2 separate regions of the Homo sapiens genome follow, and region 1 is linked to region 2. The links come from fine-mapping of genetic effects on gene expression. A gene starts in region 2. The other region holds a variant in brackets. All regions are shown on one strand. Distances are between the middles of the regions.

Region 1 (11,116 bases), 20 kb before region 2:
GGGCCAGGCTGGTATGAAGGGGGCAGGGGACTCTCAGAGAGGTTGGGGGCTGGCTGAGCTGAGTGGCCCAGGCCTGGGGCTGCCACGATGCCATCTATAACCCCCTGCCCAGATGCTGGACCTCAGCCACAATGAGCTGTCCTTTGTGCCCCCGGACCTGCCTGAGGCCCTAGAGGAGCTGCACCTCGAGGGCAACCGCATCGGCCACGTGGGCCCCGAGGCCTTCCTCAGCACACCCCGCCTGCGTGCCCTCTTCCTCAGGTGCCCCGAGGGTGACCGGAGGGGTGGAGGTGGGCAGGGGAGGGCCTGGGAGGGTCATGACCGCCTCTCTGTGCAGGGCCAACAGGCTTCACATGACGAGCATCGCGGCTGAGGCCTTCCTGGGGCTCCCAAACCTGCGTGTGGTGGACACGGCAGGGAATCCGGAGCAGGTCCTGATCCGGCTGCCTCCCACCACCCCACGTGGGCCACGGGCAGGGGGCCCCTGATCCTAGAGAGGCCCAGCAGAGCAGCTCAGACTCCTGGGACTCCGCTGGGCCGTGGACTGAGGAGACAACGCCCACCAGGGGCCCTTGGTCTGGCTCTCCTGGGCCTCCAGGGCTGGGCCTGCTCTGCCTGCCACTGGCCGAGACACAGAGGCACACAGCTGGCATACTCCAGGCTCACAGACCACGCCGGCCTGGCGGGACACACCCTACCCCAAACTCCCAACACAGATGGAGGCAGCAACAATAAAGCCAAACCCTTCCAGCACTCAGCACGGACCAGGCACCCTTTGGGGGCTCTGTCCACGGACTCCTCCCCACAACCAGTCCAGCTGGGGAAACTGAGGCTCTGGGATGCTAAGTGGGTCAGGACTGAATTTTGAGGTCTTGAGGCACACACTGGGGTCACCAAACAGCACCCTGTGCGACCTAGCCACGTGTGATTGCAGGGACGCCCAAGGCCACCCACTGAAAAAACACTGGGTGACAGATATAGGGACCCTCACATGTATCCCCCCCCACAGCAAGCATGGGAATGAAATGCATCCTTCAAGCTGGGTGTGTGGTGGTGCCCTTCTGTAATCCGTTAGGAGGCTGAGGCAGGAGGATCATGTGAGCCCAGGAGTCGGAGGCTGCAATGAGCTGATTGTGCCACTGCGCTGCAGCCTGGGTGACAGAGGGAAACCCGGTCTCTAAAAAAAAAAAAAAAAAGCACCTTTCACAAGCACACTGTCCCTCCCCAAAACTGCTTCCCTAACAGGCGCCTCCCCATCCACTTCCAGGGGAACCGGGGGGTGGGTGGGAAGACCTAGCCTGGCCACCGAGGGTCTGAGCAAGAAACAGACAGGACAGAGCTGGGCTGAGTGTGGCCCTGGCTATTTTATTCCATGTGCTGGCCCTGGGGACCCAGCTGGGCCAGGTCGACGCCCCTGGGGAGACAGTGTGGCTCGGCCAGCCTCAGTGGCTTCTTTGGGGTGCAGGAGGGCTTTGGGGTTAAGGCTGGGGAGGAACAGGAAGTAAAGTGCTTGCAGGGGCCCTCGGGGCTTGGCCCCAGCCACCCTCCCTGCTCCGGGGCGGGCCAGAGGCCGGACACCCCTGGGCTGTGCAAACAGGACTCTCCAGGGCCCAGCCAGGCCTGGGTGAGGGGCACATACTGGCTGGCAGGCATGGTTCCCAACACCCGCAGCCACGGAGGCTCTGGCGGGGCTGGGGGCCCGGATGAGGGGTGAGTCCAGAACCGATTGTCCGCTGATTGTCTGCTTGTCTGGTTCGTGGCTGTGTCGGCTCTTCCCGGTATCGGGGCCTGCTGCCCGCTTTCTGGGGGCTGCCCGCCCCATGGGCTCCTCACCTGCGGAGCCGCTGCAGCTGGGGGAGAGGAGGCCACTGGGGTCATGGAGGTGGGCTACGACCACAGTGATCCCCCAACCACCCCATCTCCTAAGCTGCTTACCTCACTCTCTACCAGATTCCGCCTATAGAGCGCCTCCTTTGCAGCATCCTGTGGGGGATGGGCATTCAGCAGGTAGTCCCTGCAGGCCCCACCCTGCCCGCTGCCCAGTGCCCACCCGGCCCGCGACCAGCTCACCCTGCTGCCATCGTTGCCCAGGCGCCGGGCAGCCTCCGTGTAGAACTGCAGCTGCCGCTCCAGCTGGGCTGCGTATTCTGAGAATGGATGGCGGGGGAATGGAGGCTTAGGGTGGGGCCTCACTGCCCACAACCCTCCTGGACTGTGCCCATCCCCAAGCCCGTCCCCCGCCAGGTGCCCATCCCCGAGCCCCTCCCCCTCCAGGTGCCCATCCCCGAGCCCCTCCCCCTCCAGGTGCCCATCCCCGAGCCCCTCCCCCTCCAGGTGCCCATCCCCGAGCCCCTCCCTCTCCAGATGCCCATCCCCGAGCCCCTCCCCCTCCAGGTGCCCATCCCCGAGCCCCTCCCCCTCCAGGTGCCCATCCCCGAGCCCCTCCCTCTCCAGATGCCCATCCCCGAGCCCCTCCCCCACCAGATATGCATCCCTGAGCACCTCCCCCCCCATGCCTATCCTGGAGCTCCTCCCCCACCAGATGCCCATCTCCAAACCCCTACCCCGTCGGATGCCCACACCCCCCTGCTCCAGCTGTGCCCTCTGCCACTGGCTGCGTTGCATGATGTCCTGGTACTGCTGGGCCACTTCTGGGGGCACCGGCCGCCGCGCCTGCCTGAGGGCCAGGATCTAGAGGATACAGAGGGTCCTGTGAGGATCCTGCCTGGGCCTGCAGACTCCCCAGTCCTGCCCCATGTAGCCCGGCAGGATGGATACCCACCTTCCGCTCCAGACGCTCTTGGTCAAACGCCAGCACACTGAGGCTATGCAGGGGCCGGGCTGATCTAAGGGGTGGAGGAAGGATAAGGGACTGCAGAGATTCCCCCAGCCCAACCCTGTTAATTCAAAAGACACACTGGGCTGGGCACAGTGGCTCACGCCTGTAATCCCTGCACTTTGGGAGGCGGAGGTGAGTGGATCATGAGGTCAGGAGTTCGAGACCAGCCTGGCCAATATGGTGAAACCCCGTCTCTACTAAAAATAGAAAAAAAATTAGCTGGGCATGGTGGTGTGCTCCTGTAGTCCCAGCTACTTGGGAGGCTGAGGCAGAAGAATTGCTTGAACCTGGGAGCTGGAGGTTGCAATGAGCCGAGATCACACCACTGCACTCCAACCTGGGTGACAGAGCAAGATTCTGTCTCAAAAAAAAAAAAAAGCCGAGCATGGTAGCTCATGCCTGTAATCCCAGCACTTTGGGAGGCCGAGGCAGGCAGATCACCTGAGGTCGGGAGTTCGAGACCAGCCTGACCAACATGGAGAAACCCCATCTCTACTAAAAATAGAAAAATTAGCTGGGTGTGGTGGCGCATGCCTGTAATCCCAGCTACTCAGGAGGCTGAGGCAGGAGAATCGCTTGAACCCCAGAGGCGGAGGTTGCTGTGAGCTGAGATCGCGCCATTGCACTCTAGCCTGGGCGACAGAGCTAGACTCTGTCTCAAAAAAAAAAAAAAAAAAAAAAGACACACTGGGCACTGGGGGTATGGTGGGAGACAGCCGAGAACCACCCGGTGTTACTGATCCCAAAACCTAGCGGGGATGATGGCTGCACACCCAGGAAACTATGATGCCTAGTGGTCAGGGAGGGCTTCCTGGAGGAGGTAACAGCCAAGTTGGGATCCAAAGAAGGAATCAGAGGTGGGCAGAGGAACAAGGAACACCCCTACCCTAGGTAGGGGTGTTCAGGGCACTGGAACCCACAGAAGTCCAGAGGCCAGTGAAAACTATTCATGGACATGAACCACAGGAGGGAGTAGGGAGAGAGAAGCCTGGATATGTTGACAATGGTCAGATCACAAAAGGTTTTAAAGACCAAACCAAGGAGTTTAAACTGGATCCTCTGGGAAAAGGGGTGCCAAGAAAGGTTTTGCAGCAGGAGAGGGACGTGGTCCAATTTGTGCCTGGTGGGAAACTGTCCAGGTGGGGCTGAGAGGGGAATTGGGTGTTTTCTCCAGCATGCCCTGGCCCAGATACCTACCTGTTCCCTGACTCCCTTGCAGGGGCAGGCACAGGAGGGGCCTTCCCTTTGGGCCCAGCAACCTGCTTCAGAGGAGAGAACCAGTCCTGTGAGTCCTGGGCCCCTGAACCAAGCTTCCCTCCCTGGGGTTGCTGATGGGTGGGGGTGGGGGGTCTCACTGTGGGCACAGCTGCCGGCACAGGGTCAATGACCAGCCACCTCTCTGTCGTCGTCTCCAACTGCTGGGCTGTCAGTGGCTCCCGAATCCGGACCATTACCTCCAGTCGCCCCCCTGTGGGCCGGCGACCATCCAGGACCTGGGTGGGGGTAAGGAGAAACTGTTGGTGGGAAGCAGGAAGTGACTAGAGGCCCAGGGCCAGGACAAGGGAGAACAAGACTGGTTTTTTTTTTTGGTTTTTTTTTTTTCTGAGATAGAGTCTCGCTCTGTTGTCCAGGCTGGAGTGCAGTGGTGCAATCTGGGCTCACTGCAAGCTCCGCCTCCTGGGTTTACTTACGCCATTCTCCTGCCTCAGCCTCCCGAGTAGCTGGGACTACAGGCGCCCGCCACCATGCCTGGCTAATTTTTTTGTATTTTAGTAGAAACAGGGTTTCACCATGTTAGCCAGGATGGTCTCGATCTCCTGACCTCGTGATCTGCCCGCCTCAGCCTCCCAAAGTGCTGGGATTACAGGCATGAGCCACCATGCCTGGCCAAGAGTGGTTTCTAAAATATGAGCCCATGGTATGGCTGAGATACCAGTTGATCATAATGGAGTGGGGTACTGCAAGTATTTAGGGCTGGGCAGTAGGGAGGTCTGAGGCTCTGAGGGGAGGGGCTGGGTCAACAGACAGGCTCATAGAGGGCTCAAGGCAGGAAGTGTTTTAATAATGTTAACGAGTAGCATGGCCATACCGGAGCA[C/T]GCGGATGAATGTCCACCTCTCACCTCAAGGATCTCCCGGACCTCACATGCTATCTCCAGTGCATCCAGCTTCAGCTGGGCTGTCCCCAGCACCCGGTCAGTCTTGAACAGCCCCCTGTGTGCATGTGTGTATAGTGGGGACAGGATGGTTGGTTCAGAGGAGCTCCCCTCCCCTGGAGCCCACCCAGCGGCCATGGCTCTCTCTAGCTCACCCCTTGTGAACCACTTCGAACTTGATGCCCTTGGTCTGGATGGCCCTTCGGAAGCCACGGTGGCTGCGGTTGATGCAGAGTTTGAACTGCTCCTTGAACTCTGCAGGAGGAAGGAGGGAGAGGAAGTTGGGTGGGGTCAGGCCATTGTCTTATGTCCCTTCTGCTGCAAGGGAGTAGGGGTAGGGTGCTTCCAGCCGAGGCTCACCAGGGGAGTCTGTGTTCTTGATCACACTGGTCTTGTCTTTCTGAGCTTCTTCCTATGACCAGAGAGGAGGCAGGAAATCTAGGGGGCCTGGGACCTGGCTTTGGCCCACTGAGGCTGCAGCCCTCCCCTCCTCAGCTCCCCACGTACCACGTTGGGATAGGGGAAGTCAAACCGAACAAAGACATCCAGATCGCCAGGGGACAGTCCTGTGGGCAAACAACGGTCAGAGCTGGGCAGAGAGGGGGTCCCCATGACCCTGACCCTTGCCTACAGCCCCCTCACCTGGGGGTGTGGGCAAGTTGATGCCCTTCACGATGAAGAGGAGCATGTCGTTGCTGCTGAGGTCAGGGAAGATCCTTCCGGGTGGGCAGGTGGGCAGGCAGGTGGGCAGGGAAACAGAGGCACCTCAGTCCCACTGCCCGCCTGCCTTCTCTTCCCCCAGTGGGGGCAGGGAACAAACCCCACCCTGGCCTTCGGGGGTGTCTCAGCTCCTGGGCTCATTTTAGAATCAGACAGACTAGAGTTCTCTGTTCAGGTTGGCAATGGATCACTTTCGAGTCTTTTCTTCAGTCTGTGTATATTTATTTGGTATCTACTGTGTGCTAGGTACCCTAGCTGCTGGGTGATATTCCCTTCACTTAACAGTTGTTGAGTCCTACTAAGCATCAGCCAGTGCCCTAGCTGCTGGGAGATCTTTCCTTCATTTCCCAATGTTTCTTGAGCACCTACTATGTGCCAGCCAGTACCCCAGCTGCTGGGGGACCTTCTTTTCACTTAATATATATGTGTGTGTGTGTGTGTGTGTGTATATATACATATATATACGTGTATATATATATATATACACATATATATACGTATATATATATATACACACATATATGTATATATATATACACATATATATACGTGTATATATATATATATATATATATATATTTTTTTTTTTTTTTTAGACAGAGTCTTGCTCTGTCGCCCAGGCTGGAGTACAATGGTACGACCTCAGCCCACTGCAACCTCCACCTCCCAGATTCAAGAGATTCTTCTGCCTCAGCCTCCTGAGTAGCTGGGATTACAGCTGCCCGCCACCACTGCTGGATAATTTTTATATTTTTAGTAGAGATGGGGTTTCACCATGTTGGCCAGGCTGGTCTCGAACTCCCGACCTCAAATGATCCGCCTGCCTTGGCCTCCCAGCCTGGCCTCACTTAATATTTTTTGAGTCCTATTAAAGCACCAGCTAGTGTCCTAGTTGCTGGGGGACCTTCTATTCATTTCACAATATTTCTTTTTTTTTTGAGACAGTCTCACTCTGTCGCCCAGGCTGGAGTGCAGTGCGATCTCTGCTCACTGCAAGCTCTGCCTCCCAGGTTCATGCCATTCTCCTGCCTCAGCCTCCTAAGAAGGTGGGACTATGGGCGCCTACCACCACGCCCGGATAATTTTGTGTATTTTTAGTAGAGACGGGATTTCACCATGTTAGCCAGAATGGTCTCGATCTCCTGACCTCGTGATCCACCCACCTCAGCCTCCCAAAGTGCTGGGATTACAGGCGTGAGCCAGCACGCCTGGCCTCATTTCACAATATTTCTTGAGCACCTACTATGTGCCAGTCAGTACCCTAGCTGCTGGGGATCTAGAAGTAAATACCCATACCCTGTGCTCAATCTAGCTGAGTGGACAGATGAGCATAAGTACATAAATAGAAAAACAATAAAAAACTCAGCAGAGAGGGGAGAGTGGAGTGTGCTCAGAAGAGACTGCTCGGATAGATAGGGAGGGCCTCTTAGAGGGAAGGTGACATCATAGGTGACTCTAGATGTCAAGAGGGAGCTGCCACATGGAGACCTGAGGAAGAGGGTGAAGGCGGAAGAAATAGCTGATGCAGAGGCTTGGGGTAGGAACACACTTTGTTTGTAGGAGGGACCAAAAAGAGTCCCTTGTGGCCAAAGCTGAGTGAAGCGGGGACAGGAGGCAGAGAAGAGGTGACAAGGAGCCAGGCTGTGTGGAGATGGGGGAGCCAGGGTAAGGGGTGGGGGTTATCCCAAGGGCAGCTGGGAACCACCGGAGGGCTAGTGGCTGCACCTAACCTCATTTAGAAAGTGGAGAAAATGGGCCGGACGCAGTGGCTCACTCCTGTAACCCCAGAATTTTGGGAGGCCAAGGCAGGCGGATCATTTAAGGAGACCAGCCTGGCCAACTGAATGAAACCCCGTCTCTACTAAAAATACAAAAATTAGCTGGGCATGGTGGTGGGCACCTGTAGTCCCAGCTATTTGGGAGGCTGAGGCAGGAGAATTGCTTGAACCTGGGAGGCAGAGGTTGAAGTGAGCTGAGATTGCGCCACTGTACTCCCGCCTGGGTGACAAAGTGAGACTGTCTCAGAAAAAAAATTTTAAAAAAGGCCGGGAGTGGTGGCTCACGCCTGTAATCCCAGCACTTTGGGAGGCCGAGGTGGGCGGATCACGAGGTCAAGAGATCGAGACCATCCTGGCTAACACGGTGAAATCCCGTCTCTACTAAAAATACAAAAAATTAGCCAGGCGTGGTGGTGGGCGGCTGTAGTCCCAGCTTCTCGGGAGGCTGAGGCAGGAGAATGGCATGAATCCAGGAGGTGGAGCTTGCAGTGAGCAGAGATCACACCCCTGCACTCCAGCCTGGGCAACAGAGTGAGACTCTGTCTCAAAATAAAAATAAAAATAAAGTGGAGAAAACAATCCCCGCTCCTCTGGGCATGGGAAGACTTGATAGTACCAAGACTAACACCCACCAAAGCCGTGACTCATCTCTGGTCCCCCGTGGACTCACCCAGGCCCTGGGACAAGATACACCTTTGCACTCTCTAGATCTTTCCCAAATGCGTCACTGTGACTGCACCCTCACCATCCTTCACTTGTATCTCATGCCTGCCCCAGAGCCTTTGCATGCTCTGTGCTCTTCCACCTATCCAAAATTTCTTCCAGATGTAAATCTTGTGCCAGCTTCTGGGGAGCACAACCCGCCCCACCGCCACCAAAGGGCCACTGGGGCCACGTGGTGGGGCGTAGATCAGGAGCCTTACTTGATGACGCTGAAGGTCCTTTGCTCAAAGCGGGCGGTGGGCGTGGGGAGACCCCGGACGAAGGCTTGCTTCAGAATGTCCATGCTCCGCTTACAGTCCTCCGCCAACTTTTCAAACCTGCCGGTGGGAGGGCCCTGCTCATGTCCCTGGCCCTGGGGATGGGTGGCTGGGGGTGCAAGTGTCTGGCACAGGTCAGGGCACTTACTTGGTGGTTTCAGTGATGTTGCCCAGCTGGGTGAATTGGTTTGAGTGGTTCAGGCACATCTGGGGAAACAGAAGGCAGTGAGTCGAGGGAAGGGAAGAGAGGGGAAGGAGGGTCACGCTCCTGGGGGATGGGCTGGGGGCCTCCCCCTCACCTCGTGCTGCTGCCGTATGAGCTTGGTGAGTTCACCATAGCGCCGGGCGGCCTCCTGAGACAGACCCGGGCCAGGCCGCTGGACCAGGGCAAAGTCGTCCTTGTTGACAGGGGCAGGCGGCACCTGGGGAGGACGAGGCTGGTGGCGGGGGTAAGGAGGACAAGCAGGCCCACCTAGGGCTCTGCAGAAATGTCATTCTTCCTTGACGAGGGGCATTCCCTGACCACGGCTCTGTCACCCTTCTCTGGTCTTTTTTTTTTTTTGAGATGGAGTCTCGCTCTGTTGCCCAGGCTGGAGTGCAATGGCGGGATCTCAGCTCACTGCAACTTCCACCTCCCGGGTTCAAGTGATTCTCCTGCCTCAGCCTCCTGAGTAGCTGGAATTACAGGCGCCTGCCACCACACCTGGCTAATTTTTGTATTTTTAGTAGAGACAGGGTTTCACCATGTTGGCCAGACTGGTCTCGAACTCCTGACCTCAAGTGATCCGCTGGCCTTGGCCTCCTTAATTGCTAGGATTACAGGCATGAAAGACCATGCCCGGCCTCTGTTCTTTCTTCTTGATCCTTCCATTGTCCCATTTAACAAGGGCATCCTTCAGTCACCCCAGAAATCATGTATGGTGCCGGGTGCAGTGGCTCATGTCTATAATCCCAGAACTTTGGGAGGCTAAGGCGGGTGGATTGCTTGAGCTCAAGAGTTTGAGAAATCATGTATGGAGCCCCTACTGTGCGCTAGGCTCTGCTTTGGGGCTGGGGACACAAGGATGAAGAAGAGAGAACAAAATCCCTGCCCTCGTGGGGCTGACATTCTCTTGGGGGAGATGGGCAATAATCAGAAGAAATAAGTAAATCATATGAGAGAGTAGAAGGTGATACATGCCACAGGGAGAGGCAGAGCTGGGAGGAGGAGCAGAGGGATCTGGGTGACAGGGAGGGATTTTAGACAGCTCAGGGTAGGCCTCCTGGAGATGTGATGTCTGAGCAGAGACCTAATGATGGGAGAAAGTGAACCACACAGGTGTCTGTGGGAAAAGCATTCAGGCAGTGGGAACTGCATGTGCAAAGGCCCTGAGGTTGCAGAGTGCCTGGTGTTTGAGGCTACCAGACAGCAAGGGGAAGAGTGAGCGAGGGGGTGGGTGAAAGAGAAGGGGCAGGCCGGGCACAGTGGCTCATGCCTGTAATCCCAGCACTTTGGGAGGTCGAGGCAGGTGGATTGCCTGAGGTCAGGAGTTCAAGCCCAGCCTGGCCAACATAGTGAAACCCCATCTCTACTAAAAATATAAAAATTAGCCGGGCATGGTGGCGTGTGCCTGTAGTTCCAGCTACTCGGGAGGCTAAGGCAGGAGAATCGCTTGAGCCTGGGAGGTAGAGGTTGCAGTGAGCTGAGGTCGTGCCACTGCATTCCAGCCTGGATGACAGGGCGAGACTCCGTCTCAAAACAAAACAAAACAAAACAAAAACAAGAAAGAGACCAGGCAAGGGAGCTGATGGGGCAGATGGTGCAGTCTTCATGGGCCGTGATAAGGTGCTGTATTTATTTGTGTGTTTCTTGTGGTCTCTCAATTAGAACATCCACTCCATGACAGTGAGTCTCACTGTGTTTCCCAGGCTAGTTTCGAGCTCCTGGCCTCAAGGAATCCTCCCACCTCAGCCTCCCAAGTAGCTGGAATTACAGGTGTGACCCACCATGTCCAGAGAGAGTGTGGATTTTTGCCTTTTTTGCTCAAGGCCATGTCTCCAGTGTCCAGCAAAGACTACATGTCCCAGGCTCCTCTGAGGCTAAATGTAGCCATGTGACTGTTTGGGCCAATGGGAGGCAAGCAAAAGTGATGTCACTTCCTTAAACTGGGTGGCCTTTGCTGGGCGCCCAGTTCAAGCTCCTCAAATGTTTCCTATTATGAGTACTATTCTATCACATGAGGAATCCTGGCTGTCTTTCTTTGAGGCAGGGGTGGCCATCCCCACTTCTCTGAGAAAAATGATGCTCAGAGAAAAAGGAATGGTCCTGTCCTAAGTGGCAGAATCTAAGTGTCTCCCCAGATCTGATCCCCTCCCCTTCCCTAGTAATGGAGCTCAGGCTGGTCACACAGTGCACCAACAAGAGACTACATGTCCCAGCCTCCTCTGTGGCTAAATGTGGCCATGTTACTTAGTTCTGGCCAATGGGAGACAAGCAATAGTGATGTCACTTCCTTTAAAAGGGACTACTAGCTCTGCCTCTTTCTCTAGTCCTTCTGACAGGATCCACTTGGATCATGTGGACAAGGACAACCCCCTCAGGTGCAGCAAAGCAATAAGGTGGAAGAAACTCAGGCCCTGGAGGACCTCCCATTTGCAGAGCCCAGA
Region 2 (11,116 bases):
ACACCAAGAGCCCCCATTTCCCATCCTGGACACGCTAGGTGATCCCACTTCTCGCTGACTTCCCCATTTCATCTCTTCCTTATTCAGCCTCAGGTCTGGGGCCTGGCTACCTGAATTCAAAACCCAGCTCTGCAGACCGGGCACAGTGACTCACGCCTATAATCCCAGCACTTTGGGAGGCCGAGGCAGAAGGATCACTTGAAGTCAGGCGTTCAAGACCAGCCTGGCCAACATGGTGAAACCCTGTCTCTACTAAAAATACAAAAATTAGGCTGGGCGCAGTGGCTCACGCCTGTAACCCCAGCACTTTGGGAGGCCGAGGCGGGTGGATCACAAGGTCAGGAGATCGAGACCATCCTGGCTAACACGGTGAAACCCCGTCTCTACTACAAATACAAAAAATTAGCCAGGCATGCTGGCGGGCGCCTGTGGTCCCAGCTACTCGGGAGCCTGAGGCAGGGGAATGGCGTGAACCTAGGAGGCGGAGCTTGCGGTGAGCCAAGATCGCGCCACTGTACTCCAGCCTGGGCGACAGAGCGAGACTCCGTCTCAAAAAAAAAAAAAAAAAAAAAAAAAAATTAGCTGGGCATGGTGGCGTGTAATCCCCGCTGCTAAAGAGGCTGAGGCAGGAGAATCACTTAAGCCCAGGAGGCAGAGGTCGCAGTGAGCTGAGATTGCGCCACTGCACTGCAGCCTGGGCAACAGAGCAAGGGTTTGTCTCCAAAAAAAAAAAAAAAAACACACACACACAACAACAACAAAAAAAACCCCAGCTCTGCAACTTTCTCTCTGTGAGAACTTCGGCAAGTGATGTCACCTCTCTGAGCCTCAGTTTCTCCCTCTGTGACACGGGGATGACAACAGTTCCTCCTTCATAGGTAGGTTGGAGCAGAGAAGGTCAATGAAGCTCTTAGAATAGCATATTGCCAATATCTTGTTATTAGTTATGTTACATTCTATAAAGCTGCTTTGAAGACTAAATTAATGACTATAAGACTGTTGCTCCTAGGGGAAATTTAAGCTTAGGTTCCTGTGAATCTCCAGTCATAACCTTTTTTGGAGACAGGATCTTGCTCTGTCACCCAGGCTGGAGTGCAGTGGCCCAATCAGAGCTCACTGCAGCCTCAAACTCTTGGCCTCAAGTGATCTTCCTGCCTCAGCCTCCCGAGTAGCTGGGATTACAGGCATGCACCACCACACCCAGCTCTGGTCACAAAATTTTAATCAACTGATCAATACACAACCTTGCTCTATGTGTGTTTCTGTTTGAAGACACCTTCCTGAATAGATATCGTTCATTCATTAACTTTGAATTCACAGCCAACAGCACAGTAGTTCATGCCTGAATGAAGCTTCTCTCTTTTTTGTTTTTTGGAAACAGGATCTTGCTCTGTCACCCAGGCTGGAGTGCAGTGGCGCAATCTCTGCCCACTGCAACTGCTGCCTCCTGGATTCAAGCGATTCTCATGCCTCAGCCTCCCAAGTAGCTGGGATTACAGGTGTTCGCCACCAAGCTTGGCTAATTTTTGTATTTTTAGTAAAGACAGGGTTTCACCATGTTGGCCAGGCTGGTCTCGAACTCCTGGCCCCAAGTGATCTGTCCACCTTGGCCTCCCAGAGTGCTGGGATTACATGCATGAGCCAATGTGCCTGGCTGACATGAGCTTATTGTGTGTGAGGGGGCCCTGGGTGAAATACTTATGGACTCCAGATTAACTCCTATAACATGGTTATTATTCCAGTTTTACAGATGGTGAAACTGAGGCCAAAGCACATGATGTGACTCATCAAGTCACATAACCAGTAAGTGGCAGAGCTCGGATTCCAACTCTCAGTCTCGGTCCAGACTTGATCTTTTTTTTTTTTTTTTTTTTTTTGAGACGGAGTCTTGCTCTGTCGCCCAGGCTGTAGCGCAGTGGTGCGATCTCGGCTCACTGCAAGCTCCGCCTCCCTGGTTCACGCCATTCTTCTGCCTCAGCCTCCTGAGTAGCTGGGACTACAGGCGCCCGCCACCACGCCCGGCTAATTTTTTTTTTTTTTTTGTATTTTTAGTAGAGACAGAGTTTCACCGTGTTAGCCGGGATGGTCTCAATCTCCTGACCTCATGATCTGCCTGCCTCGGCCTCCCAAAGTGCTGGGATTACAGGCGTGAGCCACCGTGCCCGGCCTCAGAGTCGATCTTGACTCTCTTACCCAGATCATTGGCTCCAGGAGAACAGGGGTCTTCTCTGTCTTCTTTCCCCTACCTACCCAGTGCCCCCAGTTCTGCGCCCGAACCACTTGCAGGAGATCAGAAAATGTTCTGAGGGTGTGTTAACCATCTCACCTTTGCCTTTGAGCTTCTCCAGGGCTGGGGGCTGGCCCCCGACCAAAGCCAAGAACTCAGCCTCCAGTTCTTCATCGTTAGCCCCGTCCTCAGGGATCATCAGGCCATCTGGGGAGAGGTCAACCAGCAGGCCCAGCTAGGGGAACAGCAAGGGTTCAGTCAGACCTTTGGTTCACCACATGGCTAGAGGCAGCCATGATGGCCAGAGAGTCCCCTTGGGAGGAAGGAAACAAGGTCTCCCAGGGAAAGCCATTTCCCTGGGGAGTGCCAGGAGGCTGGAACAAGCCCAGAACAGGTGTTCCAAGATAGGCCAGGCCCTCTGGCACAGTTCAACCTGGGGCAAAGGGCAAGAGACCCAGCTCTCTGATCTGAATCCACACTTATGATGTGCTGCTGGGCCAAGTTCAGTGGGAAAAGCAGGCCCCTGGCTGGGCGCAGTGGCTCACGCCTGTCATCCCAGCACTTTGGGAGGCCAAGGCAAGAGGATGGCTTGTGTCTGGGAGTTCCAGACCAGCCTGGGCAATACAGTGAGACCCCCAACTCTACAAAAAAAAAAAAAGTTTTTTGTTTTTTGTTTTTTTTTGACACAGAGTCTCGCTCTGTCACCCAGGCTGGAGTGCAGTGGTGCAGTCTCAGCTCACTGCAACCTCCGCCTCCGGGGTTCATGCCATTCTCCTGCCTCAACATCCCGAGTAGCTGGGACTACAGGCGCCCGCCACCACGCCCGGCTAATTTTTTTTTTGTATTTTTAGCAGAGACGGGGTTTCACCTTGTTAGCCAGGATGGTCTCGATCTCCTGACCTCATGATCTGCCCGCCTCGGCCTCCCAAAGTGCTGGGATTACAGGAAAAAAAACTTTTTAAAATTAGCTGGGAGTTGTGCTGTGTGCCTGTGGTCCCAGCTACTCGGGAGGCTGAGGCAGGAGGATCACTTGAGCCTGGGGAGATCAAGGCTGCAGTGAGCCATGACTGTGCTACGGCACTCCGCCTGGGCAACAGAGTAAAGCCCTGTTGAAAGGAAAGAAAGAAAGAGAGATGGAGCCGGGGAGGGAGAGAGGGAGGGAGGAAGGAGGGAAGGAAGGAAAAAAAGAAGGAAGCGAGGGAGGGAGGGAAGGAGGGAAGGAAGCAGGCTCCACACTTTGCCCAAAGCAAAGCTACTCTGTACACTTGGGCTTTTCTTTCCAGCATCCTCAGCAGAGGGGCTGTGTGGGAAGGTTGGGCTTCAAGAGCATGATGGCTGCATGCGGTGGCTCACGCCTGTAATCCAGGAGTTCGAGACCAGCCTAGCCAACATGGTGAAACCCCGTCTCTACTAAAAATACAAAAATTAGCTGGGAGTGCTGGCGGTGTCTGCAATCCCAGCTACTCGGGAGGCTGAGGCAGGAGAATTGCTTGAACCTGGGAGGTGGAGGTTGCAGTGAGCTGAGATTGCGCCACCAAACTCCAGCCTGGGCAACAGAGCAAGACTCTGTCTCCAAAAAAAAAAGAAGAGCAATTAGAAGCCCTGACGACAGGGCCAGGTGCAGTGGCTCACGCTTGTAATCCCAGCACTTTGGGAGACCAAGGTGGGGGGATCACCTGAGGTCAGCAGTTCGAGACTAGCCTGGCCAACATGGTGAAATCCCATCACTACTAAAAATACAAAAATTAGGCCGGGCACGGTGGCTCACGCCTGTAACCCCAGCACTTTGGGAGGCCGAGGCAGGCGGGTCACCTGAGATGGGGAGTTCGAGACAGACCAGCCTGACCAACAGGGAGAAACCCCGTCTCTACTAAAAAATACAAAATTAACCAGGCATGGTGGCGCATGCCTGTAATCCCAGCTACTCGGGAGGCTGAGGCAGGAGAATCGCTTGAACCCGGGAAGCGGAGGTTGCAGTGGGCCGAGATTGCGCCACTGCACTCCAGCCTGGGGCGAGAGAGCAAGACTCTGTCTCAAAAACAAACAAACAAAAAAAGAACCCCTAACCACAATGCAGGTTTGCCATGCAGACCCGTCTTCCTATCTTGGCTAATGACCAATCATGATGTGATAACATCGTGTTTAACCATATGAAATTGCCTTTCCTGTAGGTAAAAAATGGCCAAATATTGGCAATTATGTATGGTTCCACCAACTAGTAATAATGATAATAGTAACATTTATTGAGTGCTATGTTCTAGCACTTTCCATAAACTATCTCAATGACTCTCTACAACTGTCCTGTAATGTAGGGTCTCTTGGAGGTCTCCATTTTTAATTTTTTATTTATTTATTTATTTTCAGAAGGAATTTATTTATTTATTTTGAGAAGGAGCCTTGCTCTGTCACCCAGTCTGGAATGCAGTGGCGCGATCTCAGCTCACTGCAACCTCCGCCTCTCGGTTCAAGCGATTCTCCCACCTCAGCCTCCCGAGTAGCTGGGATTACAGGTGCCCGCCACCATGCCCAGCTAATTTTTGTATTTTTAGTAGAGATGGGGTTTCGCCATGGCCTCCCAAAGTGCTGGGATTACAGGTGTGAGACACCACCCCGGACTTCCATTTTTAATTTTTTATCTTTATTTTAGAGAAAGAGTCTTGTTCTGTCACCCAGGCTGGAGCAGAAGTAGCGCAATCATAGCTCACTGCGGTCTTGAACTCCTGGGCTCAAGCAATCCTCCCTTCTTAGCCTCCCAAGTAGTAGTACTACAGGCACATGCCACCATGCCCAGTTAGTCTTTTTTTGTCGAGACGGGGGTCTTGCTTTTGCCCAGGCTGGTCTCAAACTCTGGCCTCAAATGACTCTCCCACCTCTGCCTCCGCCTCCATCTCCTGAAGTGCTGGGATTATAGAGATCTCCATTTTACAGATGAGAAAGCTGAGGCTCAGAGCTGTAAAGTCAAGTGTCCGATGTACAGAGGCCAGGAGGGAACTTCAGGTCAGCCAGACTCTAATATCTGAACACCAAGCTATGTCCTGGGCTCCTTCCATCAAAACTGAGAAAAATCAAACTATCTGGTGCCTGGGGCAAAGAAGTCGGGAGAGTGAGAAGGGGTCCAGCCACAGTGCCATAAGCTTATGGCTGCAGCCCTGGATTTGTGCTTAGCCCTGGCCAAGCTGTTAATCCCTATGACCTTGGGCAGATGTCTTCACGTCTCTGAGTCTCAAAGTCCTCATCTGTACAATGGAATAAAAAGAGTCTGACATGGCCCGACTGATGCAAGGGTTTGATGTGTCAAGTCCGAGGACTGCCCCTCCTCGACTGGAGCAGCTGTGGCAACAGGTGGCCCCGAACCCGGGGCAGGGCCCCAGGAGCTGGGGAGCCAAGGCCAGTAGGCCACACTTGGGTGGTGTTGGAGCCTCACCTGGGGGGAGGCGGGGACCGGGGCTTACCTGTGGGGCGGAGATCGGGCTTCCCTGGGGGGTGGGGCCCTTCCCTGAGCGAGTGACGGGGGTGGGGAGGGATCCCCAGGTCGGGCCGTGGGGCGCAAACTCACCTGGCGGGCGGCCGCGGCGCCTCTGCCCGGGGGTCCCGGGGGTCCTTTCCTCTTGTGCATCTTCAAGGCTGGATGCCCGGACCACCTGCCCCCAAGCCCGGCCTTGCCCTGCCTCCTTCCCCGGGCTCTGTCGCCGCGCACTCGCCCTTCCTGAGTCCTGCACTCCTCGTCGGCGCCCCGCGGCCGTCGATCCCGAGCCCTCGCTTCCCTGCTTGGCCGTCCCACTTCCGCCTCGGGCCTCGGGCGCCGCCGCACCGGAGCGCGGCCACTGGGCTCGCCGGGTCTGCCGAGCCGAAACTACAACTCCCGGCAGGTAGTGCGTGGGCGCGCAGGCGCCTGGCTGGGGCGGTGCTGACTGTCGCGGGCTGCGAGGGCGGTGTTTGCGTCGCTCATGCGCGGGGCGGGACCTCGCGGGGCGCGGGAAAGAGGCAGAGCGCGCGCAGGTGTGAGGGGCGGCGACATCTGTGGGGTTCAGAGCGTCTGTCAGTCACCGACGGGCTCCGGCTTCACGTGGGCTCTCGGCCTGTGGAGTCCTCACTTCTCGGTGGTCGGCGTAGTGTCAGTGTGGGGCTTGTCACCGGGAGCGGGGTCTACAGCGCCCACCCTCAGGCCTTTCCATCTTTCACCTCCGGACTCGAGGCCTCCAGCGTTCTGTGAGGGCCAATTTGGCCATTTATTTTTTCCAAAAAGAGTAACGCGGATAATTCAAGCGACTTATTCCCAACTGATCCAGGCAGAGCTCGTTTCTGATAAGGACAGAGGGTCCTCAACGACTTCTGTGGCCCAGGTCCGTTCTGGTTTGCCTCGCCCCCAAGGCTGGGAGAAACCGGCCTATGGCAGCTCTTTCCCCTCCAAGGACCCAGCTGTCCCCTTTAAAGTGGCACGATCTTGGCTCATTGCAACCTCTGCCTCCTGGCCTTGTACCACAGCCTCCTGAGTAGCTGGGATTACGGGTGTGTGCCACCGCACCTGACTAATTTTTTTTTTTTTTTTTGAGACGGAGTCTCGCTCTGTCGCCCAGGCTGGAGTGCAGTAGAGCGATCTCGGCTCACTGCAACCTCTGCCTCATGGGTTCAAGGAATTCTACTGTCTCAGCCTCCCAAGTAGCTGGGATTACAGGTGTGCGTCACGATGCCCAGGCTAATTTTTGTGTTTTTAATAGAGAGGGGGTTTCACCATATTGGCCAGGCTGGTCTCCAGAGGCCCCTGGAGAGTCCTCAAGTGTCCTTGGAAGGGCCCCCAGATACCCCAGTCTGGAGGGAGGGGCTTCACACAGGCTGTTTCATCCTAGGGACCAGAGTCTGGGTCCCCGGGGCTATCTATAAGGACCCCCCAGGGCCCATTTGTCTTTCAGGTCCTGGGCATAAGATCTTCAGTTTGGAGGAGGTTTGAATTCCTACCTGGCCATGGCCCAAAGTGGCTGTGACTCTGTGTCCCATCCTGTGTCCCAGTGGGAGCCATCTGACCCCTGGGGCAGCCAAATGGGCTGAGGTGGAGGTAGGGGTAACCTCTGCTCTCAGCCAAAGCCACTGGATATAAACAGAGACAGAGACTGCTTATAATGATGAGAGATTTTGCTTGTTTTCAGATTTCTCAAGGGGAAGATAAAATGACTAAGAGGAAGAAGCTGCGGACCTCAGGTACGTTCATTCAAATGGACACTTGTTGATTTCTGCTTCTGCTTGTGGGAAGAATGTGGGCTTGTTTATTGCAGATCTGGCTAACACGACTGCCTTAACCTCCTTAAAAGGAAGCAAGGATTGGCCGGGTGCGGTGGCTCACACCTGTAATCTCAGCACTTTGGGAGGCCGAGGCGGGCAGATCACAAGGTCAGGAGTTCAAGACCAGCCTGACCAACATGGTGAAACCCCGTCTCTACTAAAAATACAAAAATTAGCCAGGTGTTGTGGCACATGCCTGTAGTCCCACCTACTCGGGAGACTGAGGCAGGAGAATCGTTTGAACCTGGGAGTCCGATGTTGCAGTGAGCCAAGATGGTGCCACTGCACTCTAGCCTGGGCAACAGAGCAAGACTCTGTCTCAAAAAAAAGAAAAAGACAAAAAGGATTTAATTCATGCTGGTAAGAAAAATAGAAGGCCGGTGTGGTGGCTCACGCCTGTAATCCTAGCACTTTGGGAGGCCGAGGTGGGCGGATCGCTTGAGTCCAGGAGTTCAAGACCAGCCTGGGCAACATAGCGAGATCCTGTCTCTACAATGTAAAGTAAGGAAATTAGCTGGGCGTGGTGGCAGGCACCTGTAGTCCCAGCTACTCAGGAGGTTGAGGCAGGAAGATTGCTTGAACTGGGAGGTGGAGGTTGCAGTGAATCCAGATCGTACCACTGCACTCCATCCTGACTGATAGATTGAGGCCCTGTCTCAAAAAAAAAAAGAAAGAAAGAAAAATAGAAATAACGGAGAGGGCATACAGGAAAAGTAAAAGTGAAAGTTTTCTGGAGCTTCTGCAAGCCTCTGGTGGGGTCCCACAGCTTAGAGGAGGCCTCCCCGGGCTTCAGGGCAGCGGGACAGCCTCCCTGCGGAACCAGTCCCAGAGATGACCCCTGGAATAATGCTTGATGTACTACAAGGCCACTCGGTATGTGGCTGAGTGTTTTACTCTGGGGCCCAAAACCTGGGTTCATCCCAGTTCTGCTCAGTGTGTGGTGGTGGATGATTTCCTCTGTGCCACAGTTTCCCCTTTTGTAAATTGGGGATAATAAAAGCCACTACCCTTTCCTTTAGAGCAGTGTTTCTCAACTAGGTGAGAGGAAGGGATTTTGACCTCCAGAGACAGCTGGCAATGTTTGGAGACTTTATTTTTTTTTTTTTTGGAGACCAAGTCTGACTCTGTCGTCCAGGCTGGAGTGCAGTAGCAAGATCTTGGCTCACTGCAGCCTCCACCTCCTGGGTTCAAGCGATTCTGCAGCCTCAGCCTCCTAAGTAGCTGGGACTACAGATGTGCACCACCACGCCCGCCTAATTTTTGTATTTTTAGTAGGGATAGGGTTTCACAATGTTGGCCAGGCTGGTCTCAAACTCCTGACCTCAGGTGATCTGCCTGCCTCAGCCTCCCAAAGTGCTGGGATTACAGGTGGGAGCCACCGTGCCCGGCCTAGAGACTTTTTTTGGTTTTCATAACTGGGGAAATTATACTGACATCTAGTGGGTGGAGGCCAGGGATGCTGCTCAAATATCCTACCATGCATAGGATGCCCCCCAGCCACAGAGAATGATCCAGCCCCAAATGTCCTCCAAGGTGAAGAATCCTGCCCTTAGAGCTCACATGTGGATTAGTATCTGTAAAGCACCCAGAACTGACCTAAGGTAGTACACAAATGTACACTGCTGTTAACAATTCTTCTTCCAGACTTTTAAGAAAACTTTTATTTTGAAGTAATCTGGGACTTAAAGAAAAGTTGCAAAAATAATTCAGAGAGTTCTAGCTACCCTTCTCCAAGCTTTCCCTAATGTTGACATCTAGCATAGCCATAGGACAGTGATCAACTGTAGAACAGCATGAAAAACAGGACAGGACTCTAACCTCGGTACACTGCTTCTAGACTTTTTTTTTTTTTTTTGAGACGGAGTTTCGCTCTTGTTGCCCAGGCTGGAGTGCAGTGGCGCGATCTCGGCTTACTGCAACCTCCACCTCCCAAGTTCAGGCGATTCTCCTGCCTCAGCCTCCCAAGTAGCTGGGATTACAGGCACCCACCACCATGCTGAGCTAATTTTTGTATTTTTTTAGTAGAGTCAGGGTTTGGTCAGGCTGGTCTTGAACTCCCAACCTCAGGTGATCTGCCCGTCTTGGTGTCCCAAAGTGCTGGGGATACAGGAGTAGGCCACCGCGCCCAGCCCAGACTTTTTTGTTTTTGTTTTTGAGACAGAGTCTTGATCTTGTTGCCCAGGCTGGCGCGATCTCGGCTCACCGCAACCTCTGCCTCCTAGATTCAAGCAATTCTCCTGCCTCAGCCTCCCAAGTAACTGAGATTACAGGCATATGCCACCATGCCCAGCTAATTTTTTTGTATTTTTAGTAGAGATGGGGTTTCTCCATGTTGGTCAGGCTGGTCTCGAACTCCCAACCTCAGGTGATCCGCCCATCTCGGCCTCCCAAAGTGCTGGGATTACAGGCATGAGCCAGCGCGCCCAGCTCAGACTTTTTTTTAAGATGATGTCTCACTCTGTTGCCCAGACTGGAGTGCAGTGGCACGATCTTGACTCACTGCAGCCTCCGCCTCCTGGTTTCAAGCGATTCTCTTGCATCAGCCTCCTGAGTAGCTGGGATTACAGGTGTCTGCCACCACGCTCAGATAATTTTTGTATTTGTAGTAGAGATGGGGTTTCACCATGTTGCCCAGGCTGATCTTGAACTCCTGGCCTCACATGATCTGCCCGCCTCAGCCAAAGTGCTGGGATTACTGGAGTGAGCCACCATACCCAGCTTTTTTTTTTTTCTTTTTTTCGAGACAGAGTCTTGCTTTGTCGCCCAGGCTGGAGAGCAGTGGCACAATCATAGCTCGCTGCAGCCTCGACCTCCCCAGGCTCAGGTGATCTTCCCACCTCAGCCTCCGGAATAGCTGGGACTACAGGTGTGTGCCACCATGACTGGCTAATTTTTGTATTTTTTGGAAGAGACGAGGCCTCACTATGTTGCCCAGGCTGGTCTTGAACTTCTGGGCTCCAGCAGTCCACCTGCCTTGGCCTCCCAATGTGCTCAGAATTACAGGCATGAGCCACCATGCCTGGTCAGACTTTTTCTGTATATATACAGATACAGTGTTGAGCTTTTTTCTTTTTTTTTTTTTTGGAGACAGTCTCACTCTGTCACCCAGGCTGGAGTGCAGTGGCACGATTTTGGTTCACTGTAACCTCTGCCTCCTGGGTTCAAGTGATGCTCATGCCTCAGCCTCCTGAGTAGCTGGGATTACAGGTACCTGCCACCATGCCTGGCAAATTTTTGCATTTTTAGTAGAGACGGGGTTTCACCATGTTGGCTAGGCTGCTCTCTAACTCCTGACTTCAAGTTATCCGCCTGCCTCAGCCTCCCAAAGATTACAGGCATGAGCCACCGTGCCTGGCCCAGATAAAATGTTTTTATTGGAAAATCGAATCATCACACTTACTGATCTGCAACCTCCATTTTTCACTTTGTGGTAGATCATGACCATGTTTACTTGTCAACATACCTATACAATTTCATCATTTGAAAAGAAAAACACCCCAAAATAGCCAGGCTTGGTGGTACGCACCTGTACTCCAGGCTACTTGGGAGGCCGAGGTGAAAGGATTGCCTGAGACCAGGAGTTCATGACCAGCCTGAGCAACATAATGTTAC

Direction of the effects. Positions count from the first base shown, and alleles are read on the strand shown. Sizes are in standard deviations (SD) of each study's normalised expression.
As copies of T replace C in region 1, the expression in non-classical monocytes of the gene that starts at base 6,084 in region 2 goes down (large effect, 0.76 SD a copy in Schmiedel 2018).

Evidence for each region. PIP is the estimated chance that this variant, and not a neighbour inherited with it, causes the effect.
Region 1: its variant is fine-mapped to the expression of CC2D1A in non-classical monocytes (Schmiedel 2018, PIP 0.95).

The regions. Positions count from the first base shown.
Region 1 is chr19:13,921,109-13,932,224 of GRCh38, reverse strand. CC2D1A (coiled-coil and C2 domain containing 1A) reads right to left here. Exons shown (of 29, transcript NM_017721.5): 15 at 8,770-8,892; 16 at 8,619-8,677; 17 at 8,414-8,530; 18 at 5,635-5,708; 19 at 5,500-5,558; 20 at 5,353-5,404; 21 at 5,148-5,247; 22 at 4,960-5,050; 23 at 4,195-4,332; 24 at 4,037-4,101; 25 at 2,783-2,846; 26 at 2,565-2,691; 27 at 2,071-2,147; 28 at 1,936-1,983; 1 more. The coding sequence ends at 1,830. PODNL1 (podocan like 1) reads left to right here. Exons shown (of 10, transcript NM_001370095.3): 9 at 113-261; 10 at 338-1,038. The coding sequence ends at 488. Among named protein-coding and RNA genes, the nearest start is that of PODNL1, 12 kb to the left of the region's middle. RefSeq lists a silencer at 10,483-10,683. The variant C/T (reference allele first, on the strand shown) is at 4,936.
Region 2 is chr19:13,901,169-13,912,284 of GRCh38, reverse strand. It overlaps CC2D1A (coiled-coil and C2 domain containing 1A), which reads right to left and starts at 6,084. Exons shown (of 29, transcript NM_017721.5): 1 at 5,784-6,084; 2 at 2,327-2,462. The coding sequence starts at 5,843. BRME1 (break repair meiotic recombinase recruitment factor 1) reads left to right here and starts at 6,168. Exons shown (of 9, transcript NM_001345843.2): 1 at 6,168-6,570; 2 at 7,372-7,423. The coding sequence starts at 7,393. RefSeq lists a silencer at 5,710-5,769.